Homo sapiens: one gene and its partners. The protein of the gene in region 1 interacts with the protein of each later gene in a biochemical or structural test. Each region holds a gene or a part of one and is shown in the gene's direction. Other genes may lie near its edges.

What was found. The genes of interacting proteins can lie anywhere in the genome.
Region 2: the proteins of NGF (region 1) and ITGA9 form a complex in vitro, tested with the Homo sapiens proteins (one study listed by BioGRID).
Region 3: the proteins of NGF (region 1) and NGFR form a complex in vitro, tested with the Homo sapiens proteins (2 studies listed by BioGRID and IntAct, with this or other methods).

Annotation. Positions count from the first base shown.
Region 1 is NC_000001.11:115,328,215-115,335,404, reverse strand, and holds part of NGF (beta-nerve growth factor precursor), read left to right. Parts: intron 1-7,190. UniProt on the Homo sapiens protein: Nerve growth factor is important for the development and maintenance of the sympathetic and sensory nervous systems.
Region 2 is NC_000003.12:37,777,141-37,784,140, forward strand, and holds part of ITGA9 (integrin alpha-9 precursor), read left to right. Parts: intron 1-251; coding exon 252-377; intron 378-2,761; coding exon 2,762-2,881; intron 2,882-7,000. UniProt on the Homo sapiens protein: Integrin alpha-9/beta-1 (ITGA9:ITGB1) is a receptor for VCAM1, cytotactin and osteopontin. It recognizes the sequence A-E-I-D-G-I-E-L in cytotactin. ITGA9:ITGB1 may play a crucial role in SVEP1/polydom-mediated myoblast cell adhesion.
Region 3 is NC_000017.11:49,512,293-49,515,508, forward strand, and holds the end of NGFR (tumor necrosis factor receptor superfamily member 16 precursor), read left to right. Parts: intron 1-415; coding exon 416-717; 3' UTR 718-2,716; downstream 2,717-3,216. UniProt on the Homo sapiens protein: Low affinity receptor which can bind to NGF, BDNF, NTF3, and NTF4. Forms a heterodimeric receptor with SORCS2 that binds the precursor forms of NGF, BDNF and NTF3 with high affinity, and has much lower affinity for mature NGF and BDNF.

The DNA of each region.
Region 1 (7,190 bases):
ACTGGCATTGGGTAAATAAATGAGGATGAAAGACCCTTCCCCAATCCATTCCCATGAGACATCGCTTGATAACAGTGGGAAAATAGTTAAGATCCTAACTCCAAATAGCAGTAAGGCCAGGATGATCCTGAGGCTGATATGTGAATGGAGAAACTGAGGCTTTGGGGTCCTCGGTCTTTTATTAGGCTGTGCAGAAGCATAGAAACGTCACTATTTGAGCCGAGGAGAATAAACCTTCAGCCACAAAGTTTAGTGAAGACCAGAAGAATGAAAACATGCAATGGAGAAGACTTTCTGGTGGTTCGTGATGTTTTCATTGCTCCTCTCTGGGCTACTTTACATGCTTTTGAGGCCTCAGACTAGGACACAGTAGGAATCAGATTAAAATGTTAGGATGATCCCTTGATATTCTTCTCCTATATTTTGGGTAAACTTCCTGTTACAGTTTCCTCACTTGTGAGAAAGGAAGGGAAGTAGCTTTGTGACCTTGAGCAAGTCGCTAAGCTTCTCAGGCCTCACTTTCCCAACTCATTAGGCAAGTATATTGGATTTATATTGTTTCTGAATGGAGCTGTCAGCATTTTGGGACAATTCTTGGTTAAGTGTGACCAATCTGCACAGTGCAGATAGTTTAGTATTCCTGCCTCACCTCCTAAATGTCAGAAGTCATAGTGACAACCTCAAATGCCCCTCATAAAGGGCTAAGTGTATTCAAAGATAATGCTGCTCCCAGTTGAGAAGTCTTTTGGAAATTACCAATAAGGGCCCTATTGTTGGGGTTTCTGTGGTTAATCATCAAACTGGGGCTCCAGAAGTCAATTCCTGGGCTTCATCCTCCAAGAGCCAGCAAATCAGACTCTAGGCCACCATCGGCAGGGACCTCAGTGCTGTAGTCCCACCAAGTGTCATCCTTTGCCTTTTGTGAGTGAAGTGGACTACAAATGACCCATGGGAAAAGAAAATCAGAAAGAGTAAGGTGAAGGGACAGGTGCTATTAGAGCATGGCAGCTTCCTACTCTGCCATATGTTATTAAAAACACAGGCAGACTGCATGCCTGTGGAGTCTGCAGCACTGGGAGGAAATCCTTCCCTCCTTTGCTAAGTGGATCACACTCTGGCATCAGGAGGTTCCTTCCCTGAAGCAGAAGCCCCCAACACTGACCGCACTTAATACAACATGAGTGCACATTGACATCGAATTAATACAACTGTGCCCAAGCTGTGAAAATAAATGAGAATTGATAACGTGACATTTCCTTGAAAAAAAGTAGGCTAGCAACACTACACTCGAGGGATGGTGCTTGTGGCACTGGGTTTATTCTCAAGTAGAATAGCTCATTATTCTCACCTCTGCTTCAAGGTCTCATTGGGGGACAGAAAATAGAACTATTTGTTTATTTATAGTACCTAGGGTTAAAATGAATAATGTCTTCAGAGGGTAGGAGGGTATTATAGGAACACATGCTTTCTACTCATGCCCAACTCATTACAAGTAGGAGTGAAAAGGAACTGCAGAGCTTGGCGCTGATTTCAAATGAGGGAAAAAAAAGAAAGAAAAGAAAAGAAAGAGAGAGAGAAGAGAGAAAGAAAGAAAAAGAGAAAGAAAGAAAGAAAAGAAAGGAAGGAATGAAGAAAGAGAGAGAGGGGGGAGGGAGGAAGGAAGAAAGAAAGAAAGAAGGAAAGAAAGAAAAGAAAGAAAGAAAGAAAGAAAGAAAGAAAGAAAGAAAGAAAGAAAGAAAGAAAGAAAGAGAAAGAAAGAAAGTCTTAAGGAGCTCCCTCCCCAAATGAGGTTGATCTGATGATGAAATCTGTCAGGTGGAACTAGCAACAATGCTTTTGAATTGCCTAAGACTGTAGCCAACGCATTCACGTGCGGGAAGTCTTTTTTTTTTTTTTTTTTTTTTTAGTAGTACTATTAGTCAGAGTCAGACAGTCAGGATTTCCCTGAAAATCCACCACTGGGCTAAGCAGATTGAGATGTTTTGGCACTTTTGGCACCGCCTGTGGTGGCTTCTGCAGGTGGAGAGCCCTGCGAATGAAAGAAGCTGGCTATGAAATCAGTGGGAATGAACCACCCAAGTTTCACACAGAAGCCCTTCCACATTGGGCAATTTCAATCCACTACTACAGGAACAGTTTCCCAATAACCACGAAGTATTTGTTGTCAGTACAGATGGGCTGATTTTCCCATTTCCTTTGGCTGCTCCTTCAGTAGTCAGAGTTGGTGGTATAGGTCACCTCCCCTCTGTGTGCAGTTGCTAAGTGAGCCCAGGGAGGATGGTCTCAAGAGCTCAGCCCTTGCCCAGGTTAGGGGGTGGGGGAGACTGTCCTGACTTCAGTTCTTCATCATTACAGATGGATTACAACCCTCATTAGTAATGGAGTGACTTGCATGTCTCACTTGCTCAGTCTAGTGAAATGCCAACCCATTTTTGGATCTGAGCAGACCTGGCTGAGAGGTCAACGATTGAGGTACTGCCTCATCACTATGGATATGTATTGAACCCCCATTGTGTATGAGTGATGCCAAGTGGGACAGGCTCCCTTTGGATTATGGAGAACACTTTCAGAAAAAGAAGTCACACTGTTTCTAGCTGCCTGAGAGGTGCTGGACTAGATAAGCAGGGGGAAGGACGGGGTACTCCAGGAAAGTGGAGACATAGGAGGGCCTCTCCTGTCCCTAAGTTTTCTCATCTGTAAGACAAAGATATTAGTAGTAGCTATGCTGTCATCTGGCTGTTGTGCACATTAAGTGGGAAGGCATAGGCAAAACAGCAGCACAGGCCTGGCATGAGGGGGGCACCAACGAACATGAGCTTCCTCCCCTCACGTTCTCCCTTGGAAGGGCTGATCTGAGGGGAGCCCCCACTTCATAGTTGTTTTTTTTTAATTTCAGGTAGGATAACATCTTTTTTGTATGTTTTTAATGTATCTGTGCATATATAGCTTTTCTGTTTTGGGAGGAGAAATCTTTTTGGTTGCATTGAAGACTTCTCTAGGAATTTACTCACTGATATTTTGACCTTCTGTAGTTAACATTCTCATTTTGATAGAATTTTAACCAAACATTTCATCTTGCGATTTATCTTCGCCTTGTAATGTCTGGGTAAGAGAAGACTCACGGAGGTTCTCCTGTAATTTTCTTTCAGAGGCAAACTTCTCCTCAGACTCTTATTTCAGAAATGTTATGCAATGCTCTCTAAATAAGGCATTTCTTGAGAATGACCATGTTTGCTTGCAGCTTTAAGAATGTTTTGCTTCCTTACTCCACGTAACAACTCCTCTGTGTCTTTAGGATTTTAAATGTCTTAGGAATTCTTCAAGTTTACAAGAAAAGAAAGAGAAAGTGAATTTTGCTATGGCAGTGGGGCATTTCTGCTCTCCCAGACCAAGAGCCAAGGGTTAAGCAGCTGTTGCTGAATTACATAGAACCTGTGGTTAAAGGGGAAGATTGTCCTCGCCCCACAGGGGAGGGGGCCCACCATGTATGAGGCTACTGGATAGATTTTCTTCTCTCAATTAGCATCCTTATTAATATGCTACCTGGGACACTGGGCACTCTGGGGACTCAAAATAAATATAAATCATGATCCTGCCCCAAGGAGCTTGCTCAGGAGTCATAACTAAAAGGCTTAGTGGCTCATGAGAGAATATAAATGAGCTGAGGCCAGAGATTGCTGGGGCTGTGAAAAACTAGAGAGGCTATGCCTCATTGTTAAGGGACAGGCCAACCATTGCTGTAAAGGATTATAGGTCCAATACAGATCTCTTCAAGAACTTTTCAAGAAAAGCCAAAACTTTGAGACTGAAAAGCCAAAACTCTGAAATTTCTTCACTTTCCACACATGGGTACAGACCAAACAAAATTTGTCTGCAGGCTTTTTAATCTTCTTATGTGAATTAACACATGGAGCAATTGCAAGCAGTATCAAAACTGGAACTAGTGGAAGTACTAATTCTGTGAATATATGACCTCCAAGAGGGACAGGTCTGGATGTCAAGAAGGCTTTCAGGGAGGCTCCTCGGAGGGCAGTGAGGGGCTGTCCCATAGGCAGGTAGGATTTTACAGGAGTCCTGGCACACAGATAGAACTGGATTTAGGTCCAAGTTCACTTCTCATTAGCTCTGTGAGCACATTACTTAACCCCTGTAAGCCTCAGTTTCTTCATCTGTAAAAGGGAATCATGATGCCAACTGATTTTTGAGGGCAATTGTGAAGGGGAAAGGAGAGAGTGCTGGAAAGTTCTTACCTCAGAGTCTGGAATATAGCCAATGCCCAGTAAGCTGAGGCCCCTTCCCGATGTGGACCCCCTCATTGACATTGCAGACAATTGCTTTTCAAGGATTTTGAATTGCTTTTTCTGCCCCAGGAAAAGCACAGGAGGTCTGGGTTATTTTTCTCCTCTGCTGCCCTCTTCTTGCTTCTCCCCGAGGCCTGTGGCTGCTTGCCCAGTTGCCCTTTGTCAGAATCCCACCCTTTAAAAGCCTGACCTGGGCCACAGCAGAAATCACAACCCTACTCAGTAAGGAGAAGTACTCCAGGAGGCTGTATAGACACGCACGGCAAATATTTAAGGAATTCTTAGGAATAAAAAAAATTCGTAAATCTGGATTTTTGCATGAGGCCATCACAGGAACATGTTTTCTCAATTAGCGTGCACATTGCTTGGAGTGAAGTCACCGAGTCCACAGCCCATCAGGGCTGACTCGAGCTGAGCCACCTGATCAGACTTCACTTTCCATGACCTAAATGTGATTCAACCAACCTGCCACTGCCCCTAGCTGCTGAAACAAAATCATCCCTGAAATCCCAAACCAGGGTGGAGATGTACATGCTCCTCTGAAAAGCAATCTAATTTCAGATCCTGGTTGTATTCACCCCAAATTGAGAAAGACAGCACTACTCTGGAGGGTGGATTGATAGAGTCACCACAACACCTTGCATGTTTCTTTTCTTTTACCATTTATTGTTAGATGGCGACTGTGTGTAGCCTTTCAGAACAGATGACTTCTTTAGGTTCTGAAAACAGAGAAAATAGTTTCTTTTGCTAAAGCATACATCAATTGCCTAAAATATTAGCAGTCAGTGCCTGAGATGAGTGATTATATATTCTGGATGGTTTCCTGGACTGACTCTTTTCCAAGCAAATGGCTTTGTCAGATATTTGTAATTTCTGAAATATTTTATTAATGATGTCCTCTTGCCAGAGGGATGGTCCAGAGTACACAATTAGCTGCATGCCTCAGAAGCGAGATGCTGCCCAGCATCCACTAAGATCAAGCAGGAGTTCAAGGACACTTCTAATCAACTGCCATAGAGCAGAGAACAGAAAATGTTTTTACAAGTTGAAGGCCGGGTGTGTGGCCCATGCCTGTAATCCCAGCACTTAGGGGGCTGAGGCGGGAGGATCACTTGAGGACAGGAGTTTAAGGCCATCCTGAGCAACAAAGTGAGACCCCATCTGTACAAAAATAAAAATAAAAAAATTAGCCAGGCATGGTGACATACACCTGTAAGTCCTAGCTACTAAGCAGATTAAGGTGGGAGAATCACTTGAGCCCAGAAGGTTGAGGCTGCAGTGAGCCATGATCATGCCACTGCACTCTAGCCTGGGCAAGATAAGTGAGACCCTGCCTCCAAAAAAAAAAAAAAAAAAAAAGAAAGAAAGAAAAAAGAAAACAAAATACAGGTTGTGAAATCAACTTAGTGTGCAACTCTCATTAGGGAAAAAAATGAAAGAGCATAGAGTAACATTTTCAAAAATTAATATGCATTGGATATAGCAAGGGAAAATTTTTATGAAACTTTTGTTTTAGTTGTACTGTATGTATGTACATATACATATATATGCAAACTGGCTCATGATGGAAAATGCATTTTTTTTACTATAAGTCATAGTCAAAAAAAGTGTGAAAGCCACTGGCATAGACAACAGCATGATTTCGAACAGCGGATGGCTCTGAAGCCAGGCAAGCTTGGGGTTAAGTCCCAACTCTGTGATTTGCAGTTGTGTGATCTTGGGTAACTTTTGTTCTCTAAGCAACAATGTCCTCATCTGTAAGGTGAGACTAGTTTCTCTCTTGTATAGCTGTTGTGTAGATTAAGTGACAAAGTGTATGAAGTACATCTGTGAAGTACATACATAGATGTATGAAGTACATACTATGAAGTTCTGTGCCTGCCACCAAGGACACCCTCAGTAAGTGAGAGCTGCTGTCATCATCTGCCTTCCCCTTGCCCATTCCTCCTCCTTCTCTTCTTCCTCTCCTTCTCTTCTTCTTCCTCCTCCTCTTCTTTTCCCTTCTCCCTTCCTCTTTCTACTTCCTTCTCCTCTTCTTTTCCTCTTCTACCTCTTCCTCTTCCCTCTTTCTTATCTTCATTGTAACTACTCAACCTCATCAGAACTATTGACAATGTTTTTATCCCTAAGGTTTGCTTTTTCTCTGGCAAACACAGCAAAGAAGCAACAATAATCGTATCCTGTCTTTGGCCCCACCTTCTGCACTGTCTTTCTCCCATTTCATGCTTGCAAAGCCATCTTTCTTTGATTCTCTTCCCCAAGCATGACCATAACAGTAATTGTCCAAGGGGCACAAGACATCCTCCTCCCTGTCACTGGGCACTGACATTGGGTAGCATGGCCTTTCATGGCCTTGCCACTGGGGTAAACGCTTTGGTCCTAGTGTGGGTTCAGTGACTTTGGCAGGAGCTTCTGATCCCACAAAATCATATCCTTCCCCTTCAGTATATTTTTATAAGAACAACAGGGCTAAGATACCATTAAAATGTTGATATTGTCAAAATTCTAAAGAAGTTTCTGCCCAGAGCAGAGAGTCTAACATTTTCTCCTGAGCGAGGCTCCAGGCTGCCACAATGCAGAGGGTTTCAATTTCTCCCCTGGTATAAACAGTTTAAAGGCTCTTAATGTGAATGCTGGAGCTGACACCTTCAGGTAAACCCTGATCCTAACTCCAGCCCTCAACCCAATGGGCAATCTATCACTGACCTCAGACCTTTGGTTCCCAGTGGAGGGCACATGAAAGAGTGACCCACACCAAGATTCTACCTTAGGGCCACAAAGGTGACATGTCCCAATTTTCTTGAGAGCCTGGCTAATGTAGCCTCTGAGGACAGATCAGTGATGACAAACTGCCTACCTCTTAGTTCTCATGGAAGCTTAGCCTGCCCC
Region 2 (7,000 bases), on another chromosome or scaffold:
CATCTCATTTGCATGTTATATGCCATCTCATCAATTATTGGGGGACCTAAGATCCACATTTTCTATTATTTGGCCCTGTTGATGCTACAACTTCTGCCTTTCAGCTTTTCAGCCATTGTTCTCCACTTCAAAATGGACAAGGAGGAAAGGTGAATTGGGGTTCTACCACTCCTGCCTCTACAATAAGAGGCTCCAGCATCATGATTCATTCTTGAGAATGACTCCTCTGACAGGCCTCTTTTCATTTGCAGGTGGGCCAAGAGAAGGGAAACTGCTCTTTCCAGAAAAACCCAACTCCCTGCATCATCCCTCAAGAACAAGAAAATATCTTCCACACAATATTTGCTTTTTTCACAAAGTCTGGAAGAAAAGTCTTGGTAAGGATTTGTTTAGTGGTTGGGGTAACACGGGTGGTCCTCACTCGGAAGACACCAGTTTTCTATTTGATATTTATTATTTCCTAAATCTGGTTTTAATCAATTTGACTTACAAAGGCACAGACTGTGGTCAACTCCTAATTTTCAGTCTGAGGTTTCAATCAAAATGTTAAATTTACATTCCAAATCCTATTACCTGGAAAAGGGATAAATCTTTGCAACCCACCAAGCACAAAGTAAAATGTTTCTTCCACTAGAATGAGTCTAAACAAGAGTGATTATTCTTGTGCAAACATTTTGGGAAACTGTTTGATAATATCTACTAAAACAAAACGTGTGTATCCTATGACACAGCCATTCTACTCTTGAGTATATCCCCAAGAAAAATGAGTACTTGTGCTTCCCAGAAAAGACATGAAAAAGGATGCTCACAGAAATGTTAAAATAGCTGAAAGCTGAGAACAATGCAGATATCCATCAATAGGAGAATAAGTAAGCAATTGTGGTATATCCATACACTGGAATATTACACAGTAATGAAAAATAACAAACTACTGCTAATGAATGAATCTCACAGACAGAATATATTGAGTGGAAGAAGCTAGAGACAAAAGCCACATATTGTAATATTTCACTTATACGAAGTTCAGAAATAGCAAAAACTAATCATGATGATAGAGGTCAAGAAGGTGGTTACTTTCAGAGGAATGTGGATGGGATGGGGCATGAGGGAGCCTGCTTAGATGCTGGAAATGTCCTACATCCTAATCAGGGTGGTAGTCCTCCAGGTATAAACACATGTAAAAATTTTTAAAGACAGGCCGGGCACGGTGGCTCATGCCTGTAATACCAGCACTTAGGGAGGCTGAGGGGGTGGATCACCTGAGGTCAGGAGTTTGAGACCAGCCTGGCCAACATGGTGAAACCCTGTATCTACTAAAAATACAAAAATTAGCTGGATGTGGTAGTGGGCGCCTGTAATCCCAGCTACTAGGGAGGCTGAGGCAGGAGAATCGGTTGAATCAGGGAGGCAGAGGTTGCAGTGAGCCAAGATCGTGCCACTGTACTCCAGCCTGGGCAACAGAGCAAGACTCTGTCTCAAAAAAAAAAAAAAATTATAAAGACACACACTTCAGATTTGTTCTATTTACTATATTTGTTACACCTCCATTTTTAAAAAGTGCAGGTATTGAAGATGGAATGACAATGCTTTCCAAAGCCTCCTTTTTTTTATCTTTGGTTACATTTCTCTAAGCTCCTTATTTCAGCCCTGGCACATCTCACCTTTATCATTTCCTTTCTCATTCTTTTCTCCTGTTGGAGAAGGGTGACTGTTTGCCACTTGAAAGGTTGGGTTTTTTTTTTTTTTTTTTTTTTTTACTTACATAGTGAGGGTGATATTGTTGAAAGCCCTTAGACTTGTTAGATGTAGTGATACCTAGTGATTTTATAGTTACGACTCTGTCTGGCTGAAAATTTTGCCGTATAGATGAAACATCATCAAGGTATGTATACGCATTTTGGAACCTATCATATAAAAAAGAAAACTTTTGTAACTTAAATTTGGGATTTATGTTTTTGGTTTTTTGTTTGTTTGTTTGTTTTGAGATGGAGTCTTGCTCTGTCGCCCAGGGTGGAGTGCAGTGGCATGATCTCGGCTCACTGCAGCTTCTGCCTCTCGGGTTCATGCAGTTCTCCCGCCTCAGCCTCCCCAGCAGCTGGGACTACAGGCGGCCACCACTATGCCTGGCTAACTTCTGTATTTTTTGTAGAGACAGGGTTTCACCATGTTGGCCAAACTGGTCTTGAACTCCTGATCTCAGGTGACCCCCCTACCTCAGCCTCCCGAAGTGCTGGGATTACAGGCGTGAGCCACTGCGCCCAGCCGAGATTTACGTCTCTATTGTAACTTTTGTGTTTTCTTGAGGAAGTGTCACATGACTTCTTAGCCCTCTTATTCACCTACCTAATAAATAGGCATGAAAGTATATTTGCCACTACACAGGTGGAAGTCACATAATGTAGGAAACGTGTCTGTGTTCAAAACTCATAAGAATGCTTTCAGAATGCAAAATTTAAGTTTGTGGGTTTAAAAAAAAAAACAATTATTTCTCTTTGTGAATTCATCCAATTCTTGGTAGGATAAATTAGTGAGCTGTTTTCTCCCAGTTGCTTGACTTAAAGGCATGCTCTGGTTCCCACTGGGTGGGAAATCCCTTGAATGCCCTCTGGTGGCGAGAAAGAACGATTGCATCTTCTTGTGGATTTCCTCTGCCTGGAATTGCCTTAGTCACCAAGTTCATGGAGCCCACTACTCTGTAAATTGTTGTGGATTTGTCTTTGTTCTTAATTCCATTGGAAATTTTTCTGACTTTTCTTCTCAGGACTGTGAAAAACCAGGAATTTCTTGCCTAACAGCACACTGTAACTTTAGTGCTCTTGCTAAAGAAGAAAGTCGTACTATAGACATTTACATGCTGCTGAACACAGAAATACTGAAAAAGGTAAGCCCTAATGAACCGCACTTGTGGATGCATTTAGAAGCATTTGAATTGTTGACATCTGATTTTGGGTAAAAAAAAGGAAAAAGGAAAGCATTTGAATTGGTGTCCTCATGACAATCTGGCTGCCCCCCCTTTTGGCTGTCTACAAGAGACTGTTTTTATTTTTATGTATTTAGGGGGTACAAGTGCAGACTTCTTATATGAATATATTGTATCGTGATGAAATCTGGGCTTTTAGTGTACCCAATAGTGAACATGGTACCCAACAGGTAACTTTTCAACCCTCACCCCCCTCCCACATTTTGGAGTCTCCAATGTCTGTTAATTCCACTCTTTATGCCTATGGGTACCCATTACTTAGCTCCCACTTATAAGTGAGAACATGCAGTAGTTGACTACTTATGAGTTATTTCACTTAGGGAAATGGACTTCATTTCCATCCATGTTGCTGCAAAAGACATAATTTAATTCTTTTTTATGGCTGAGTAATATTCCATGGTGTGTGTGTGTGTGTATATATATATATATACCACATTTTCTATAACCAGTCATCCATTCATGGACACTTAAGTTGATTCCCTATCTTTGCTGTTGTGAATAGTGCTGCAATAAACTTACCAGTGCAGGTATATTTTTTATACAATACTTCTTTCCCTTTGGGTATATACCCATTAGTGTGATTGCTGGATGGAATGGCAGTTCTATTTTTAGTTCTTTGAGAAATCTCGATACTGCTTTTTTGATTGTACTAATTTATCTTCCCATCAACAGTGTATAAGTGTTCCCTTTTCTTTGCATCCTCACCAACATCTGTTGTTGTAGTTGTTGTTGTTGAACTGTTTAGTAATAGTCTGGCTGCCCCTTTTGAAACTTTTCCAGCAAGTGCCATTGGTAATTTTGCTGGTAGATAATGCCAGGGTAAAATACCAGACCCTTGCTACTCAAAGTGTGGTCCGAGGACCAGCAGCATCAGCATCACCTGAGAGTTTCTTAGAAATGCAGAATCCTGGGCTCCACCCCAGACTTAATAAATCGGCATCTTCATTTTTAACACATTCCCCAGGGATTTTGTTTGGCCATTTAAGTTTCTCATGCTTTAGCTTGCATCAGAATCACCTGGAGATCTTGTTCAAACACAGATTCCTTTGGGGTGCAGTCTGAGGCTCTCCAGTTGCCACAAGCACCCAGGTGATGCCAGTCCTGCAGTCTAGGGACCTCGCTTTGGATGAAGGTTGGCTAACCTTTTCTGTAAAGGGCCAGTGGTAAATATTTCAGGCTTTGCAGGCCCTACAGTCTCTTGCAACTGTTCAACTCTGCCATTGTATTGTGAAAGCAGCCATAGACAACACTCAAATAAATGGGCATGGCTGTGATCCAGTAAAACTTTATAAAAACAGGCAGAGGGCCAGATTTGACCCATGAGTCCTAGTTTAAATGACGGTTTGTTTTGGTCCAACTTTTGAACCTCAGGTCACTTTGCTATTATGAGTTTATCACAGGTGGTTCATTAAAAAACCACCTCAACCAGTGCATCGGTGGCTCTTGAAGAATCATACAAATTTCCTATGATTTATTTTAAGGTGAGAGCTGCTGAGAGGCCACTTCCAACAAGTTGCTGTAAAAATAATTACATGTGAAGATAAAACTAAATATGCATGTTAGCCTCAGAGATTCCAATTATTTTTCTTTAGAAAGACTAAATGTGTTAATCTGTACAAACCTATCCACGTGTGAATGAATAACCTTAGAAAAGTCATTCTGTGGTTATTTTTAAATAGGCACAGAGGTAACACACTGACCTGAGAGGATGCAGGCATCAGGGGATGTTTTTCCATTTTCAATCTGTAGCCGTTACAGCCCTCACACACCTGAAGAGAGCTGTGCATAGTTCTGGTTTCTCTGGTTTGCTCTGGAGGGAAACTGGTTTGGGGCAAGTTGGACTCACACTGCAGTGCTTTCTTCTCCCTTTGTACCTCTCCCTTTATAAAGGACAGTGTTGGAGGAGGACCAGGCCTGACTTAGAGCACCACTGGCCATCCTCTGATTCCATAAGGGAGGCTGGAAAACCCCACGTCTGGAGAAGTACCTTCCTGAAATGTGTCCGCAGGCCAGGCTGGAGGACTATGCCTCTGCATATGTACCTGTCCTGTTTGTATTCTTCAAAAATGGTGCTGCAGACAGTTTTATTGCCTGTGCCATACTTGCCACTGTCCATAGAGCCCTGGTGACAGCACTGGTGGCTGTAAGCCACTCTGATGTTTCCTTTATCCTCAACCCAGATGGCTGCTGCTTGCACTTCAGTTATTTGCACTTAATCATGCACAGCTCTGCAGCCTGGTTCTTCTGCTTTTCTATCCCGGCAGCCAGTGGTGACCCTTTGCCAAGGAACATGTCCCAGTGACTACTGTCCCCATGGGCCAGCCAGGCCAGTAGAGCCGCAGGCAAGAGAGCTGAAAGCTGTAGGGTGTCATATGAAGCCTTCAAGGCTCATTCTCCATGTGCCCTTTCAGCAGAAACCAGGAGCACTTCCAGGTGCAGAGAAAAGCTTAGAACAAAGTTGACCTGGAAGCCAGATGGGGCCCCAGCTGCTCCCAGAGCTTCAGTTGCCCTGAAGCCAGCTACAGCCTCCCTTGGGGAGTGGAGCCCACATGGCTCCAGGCCTCCCGAAGGATGTGGAGCAGCGCCAGCCTTGTGGTTTGCCTGGGCCTGCAGTCGTGTTTATTTTCCTTTTGACCTCAAGATCTGGCCCCAGACAAGGGAATTTGAGGTTTTACTGTTTTGACCTTAACAAGTTTTCATTTGAAATGTAGGATCTGATTTTTAAAATCACTGTAGGAGCCGGGCGCAGTGGCTCACGCCTGTAATCCCAGCACTTTGGGAGGCTGAGGTGGGCATATCACAAGGTCAGGAATTCAAGACCAGCCTGGCCAACATGGTGAAACCCCATCTCTACTAAAAAATACAAAAATTAGCCTGGCATGGTGGTGGGCACCTGTAGTCTCAGCTACTCGGGAGGCTGAGGCAGAAGAATCGCTTGAACCTGGGAGGTGGAGGTTGCAGTGAGCCAAGATCGTGCCATTGCACTCCAGCCTGGGCAACAGAGCGAGACTCTGTCTCAAAAAAAAAAAATCACCGTAGGATTCGGATTTTTTTGGAAGTATTCTTCTTTCAGTCTGTAAGGCTTTTCTCACTGATTCTACAACCGTGGGGGCCCATCCTGTGCCAGACTCCTCGTCTGCTTGGCCTGTAACGTTGGCAATTATCATCATCATTATCGTTATTAATATCCAAGTTTATTTTTATTTATTTTAATGTTTTTATTTAAAAAAATATTTTTAGAGACAGGATCTTGCTCTGTCACCCAGATGGGAGTACAGTGGCTCAATCATAGCTCACTGCAGCCTCAAACTCCTGGGCTCAAGTGATCTTCCTGCCTCAGCTAGTCCTCAGCTAGGACTGCAGGCACATGCTACCATGACAGGTGAATTTTTTTTTAATCTTTTGTAGAGATAGGATGTTTCCCCAGGCTGGACTTGACCTCCTAGCCTCAAGTGATCCTCCCACTTCAGTCTCTCAAAGTGCTGGGATTACAGGCCTTAACCATCGTGCCTGGCCCAAGATTATTATTATTATTCAAGATTGAAAATACAGCATATCCTGATACATAAAACCCCAACTTTATAAAACTGTTAAATTGGTAAAAGATTATTTGTTGCTTAAAATTATTTCTTGCTTAAAGTGAGTTAACTGGAGTAACTCTTTTGAATGACAAGCTTCCCAAAAGCATTTAAAATGTGTCTTATGGTTGTTTTAAGAAAAGAATGATAATTGGTGCATAACTCCCAAGTCACATATACAGACCAGGGTCCCTGTGTGCCCCAGGAAGGTCTTTGTGGTTTCTTTGGCAGAGATGAGCAAAGGGTACCCTTGGAACTGTTTTCTGTGGAGTCCTCTACCTTCCTGTTTCTTTGAGGGTTTAACCAAAGGTGGCATTTAAGTGTAAGCTCCTTGCATGACAGGCAAGCTGGGTAGATGTAGGTGGGGACACCACAAGACACCTTGCCTGTGGAGCCCCTCCTGCCCCACAGGTAGAATGTTGAATGCACTAGTTCTCTGCTA
Region 3 (3,216 bases), on another chromosome or scaffold:
CCCCTGGGGGCTAATTATTGCCCAAAGTAGCTGCAATTAGCCTCTTGCCCTGGACTTCTGGGGAACAAGTAGTTAAGTGTGTACCCTAATTAGTGGCCCATAGCCCAGCTCCGGGACACTTGCTGTAGTTGTCTAGAACTGAGAAGCCCTATCTCCTCCTCTGCCATGATTAATTGCTGGGGGGGAAGAGAGGAGGGATGGGGATAGGGATTGGGCTGGAGTGACAGGAGGAAGGGACAACGAGTCCCCCCAGGTGCCTTCACTTCCTGGTGCCCCACCCAGGACCTTGTCTTGGCCCCAGGCCTCCAGATGGGGAGGAGCACTGCCTCGGCCCTTCTTGGGTCTCACCCCAGTGCCCACTGTTGGGGAAAGGAGTTCAGGGGTAGGACCTGACTCTCCTCTGGTTTCTCTGCAGCCCTCAAGGGTGACGGAGGCCTCTACAGCAGCCTGCCCCCAGCCAAGCGGGAGGAGGTGGAGAAGCTTCTCAACGGCTCTGCGGGGGACACCTGGCGGCACCTGGCGGGCGAGCTGGGCTACCAGCCCGAGCACATAGACTCCTTTACCCATGAGGCCTGCCCCGTTCGCGCCCTGCTTGCAAGCTGGGCCACCCAGGACAGCGCCACACTGGACGCCCTCCTGGCCGCCCTGCGCCGCATCCAGCGAGCCGACCTCGTGGAGAGTCTGTGCAGTGAGTCCACTGCCACATCCCCGGTGTGAGCCCAACCGGGGAGCCCCCGCCCCGCCCCACATTCCGACAACCGATGCTCCAGCCAACCCCTGTGGAGCCCGCACCCCCACCCTTTGGGGGGGGCCCGCCTGGCAGAACTGAGCTCCTCTGGGCAGGACCTCAGAGTCCAGGCCCCAAAACCACAGCCCTGTCAGTGCAGCCCGTGTGGCCCCTTCACTTCTGACCACACTTCCTGTCCAGAGAGAGAAGTGCCCCTGCTGCCTCCCCAACCCTGCCCCTGCCCCGTCACCATCTCAGGCCACCTGCCCCCTTCTCCCACACTGCTAGGTGGGCCAGCCCCTCCCACCACAGCAGGTGTCATATATGGGGGGCCAACACCAGGGATGGTACTAGGGGGAAGTGACAAGGCCCCAGAGACTCAGAGGGAGGAATCGAGGAACCAGAGCCATGGACTCTACACTGTGAACTTGGGGAACAAGGGTGGCATCCCAGTGGCCTCAACCCTCCCTCAGCCCCTCTTGCCCCCCACCCCAGCCTAAGATGAAGAGGATCGGAGGCTTGTCAGAGCTGGGAGGGGTTTTCGAAGCTCAGCCCACCCCCCTCATTTTGGATATAGGTCAGTGAGGCCCAGGGAGAGGCCATGATTCGCCCAAAGCCAGACAGCAACGGGGAGGCCAAGTGCAGGCTGGCACCGCCTTCTCTAAATGAGGGGCCTCAGGTTTGCCTGAGGGCGAGGGGAGGGTGGCAGGTGACCTTCTGGGAAATGGCTTGAAGCCAAGTCAGCTTTGCCTTCCACGCTGTCTCCAGACCCCCACCCCTTCCCCACTGCCTGCCCACCCGTGGAGATGGGATGCTTGCCTAGGGCCTGGTCCATGATGGAGTCAGGTTTGGGGTTCGTGGAAAGGGTGCTGCTTCCCTCTGCCTGTCCCTCTCAGGCATGCCTGTGTGACATCAGTGGCATGGCTCCAGTCTGCTGCCCTCCATCCCGACATGGACCCGGAGCTAACACTGGCCCCTAGAATCAGCCTAGGGGTCAGGGACCAAGGACCCCTCACCTTGCAACACACAGACACACGCACACACACACACAGGAGGAGAAATCTCACTTTTCTCCATGAGTTTTTTCTCTTGGGCTGAGACTGGATACTGCCCGGGGCAGCTGCCAGAGAAGCATCGGAGGGAATTGAGGTCTGCTCGGCCGTCTTCACTCGCCCCCGGGTTTGGCGGGCCAAGGACTGCCGACCGAGGCTGGAGCTGGCGTCTGTCTTCAAGGGCTTACACGTGGAGGAATGCTCCCCCATCCTCCCCTTCCCTGCAAACATGGGGTTGGCTGGGCCCAGAAGGTTGTGATGAAGAAAAGTGGGCCAGTGTGGGAATGCGGCAAGAAGGAATTGACTTCGACTGTGACCTGTGGGGATTTCTCCCAGCTCTAGACAACCCTGCAAAGGACTGTTTTTTCCTGAGCTTGGCCAGAAGGGGGCCATGAGGCCTCAGTGGACTTTCCACCCCCTCCCTGGCCTGTTCTGTTTTGCCTGAAGTTGGAGTGAGTGTGGCTCCCCTCTATTTAGCATGACAAGCCCCAGGCAGGCTGTGCGCTGACAACCACCGCTCCCCAGCCCAGGGTTCCCCCAGCCCTGTGGAAGGGACTAGGAGCACTGTAGTAAATGGCAATTCTTTGACCTCAACCTGTGATGAGGGGAGGAAACTCACCTGCTGGCCCCTCACCTGGGCACCTGGGGAGTGGGACAGAGTCTGGGTGTATTTATTTTCCTCCCCAGCAGGTGGGGAGGGGGTTTGGGGGCTTGCAAGTATGTTTTAGCATGTGTTTGGTTCTGGGGCCCCTTTTTACTCCCCTTGAGCTGAGATGGAACCCTTTTGGCCCCCGAGCTGGGGGCCATGAGCTCCAGACCCCCAGCAACCCTCCTATCACCTCCCCTCCTTGCCTCCTGTGTAATCATTTCTTGGGCCCTCCTGAAACTTACACACAAAACGTTAAGTGATGAACATTAAATAGCAAAGAAAGAAAAATAGTACAAAGAGATTTTCTGGAAATACACATGGTTTGAATTGTTTGGGATTGGGTGTGTGGCAGGGACCCAGGTATAATTTCCAATTCGGTCAATTCCTGCCCTCTTTTCCCCCACACCAAAAGGGGAAGTTTTAACAGAAATCCAGTAAGTTCCCATGTATCACTATGGGGTGAGGTGGGGAAGGAGAAGGGGCCCTTTGCTCCCAGATCTTGGAGAGGGAAAGTGAAAATGGCCACGCAGGAAGCTAGCCAGCTGTGAACTTGACCAGATGTCAGAAGTGAAACTGACCACAGGCAAGTCAGAGGCTCGCCAGGAGGGCCAGGTCACAACCCCACAGCTCCCAGCCACCCACGTGGCCTGGGAGACACACACACACACATACACACCACAGAGAGAGAGAGAGAGAATCTGGCTCCAGATGGCCTAGCAGGAGGCATTCGGCAGGCCTGGCCTGGAGTTAGGCAGGCAGGCCCCTCCCTTGTAGCTCTCGTGGGCAGG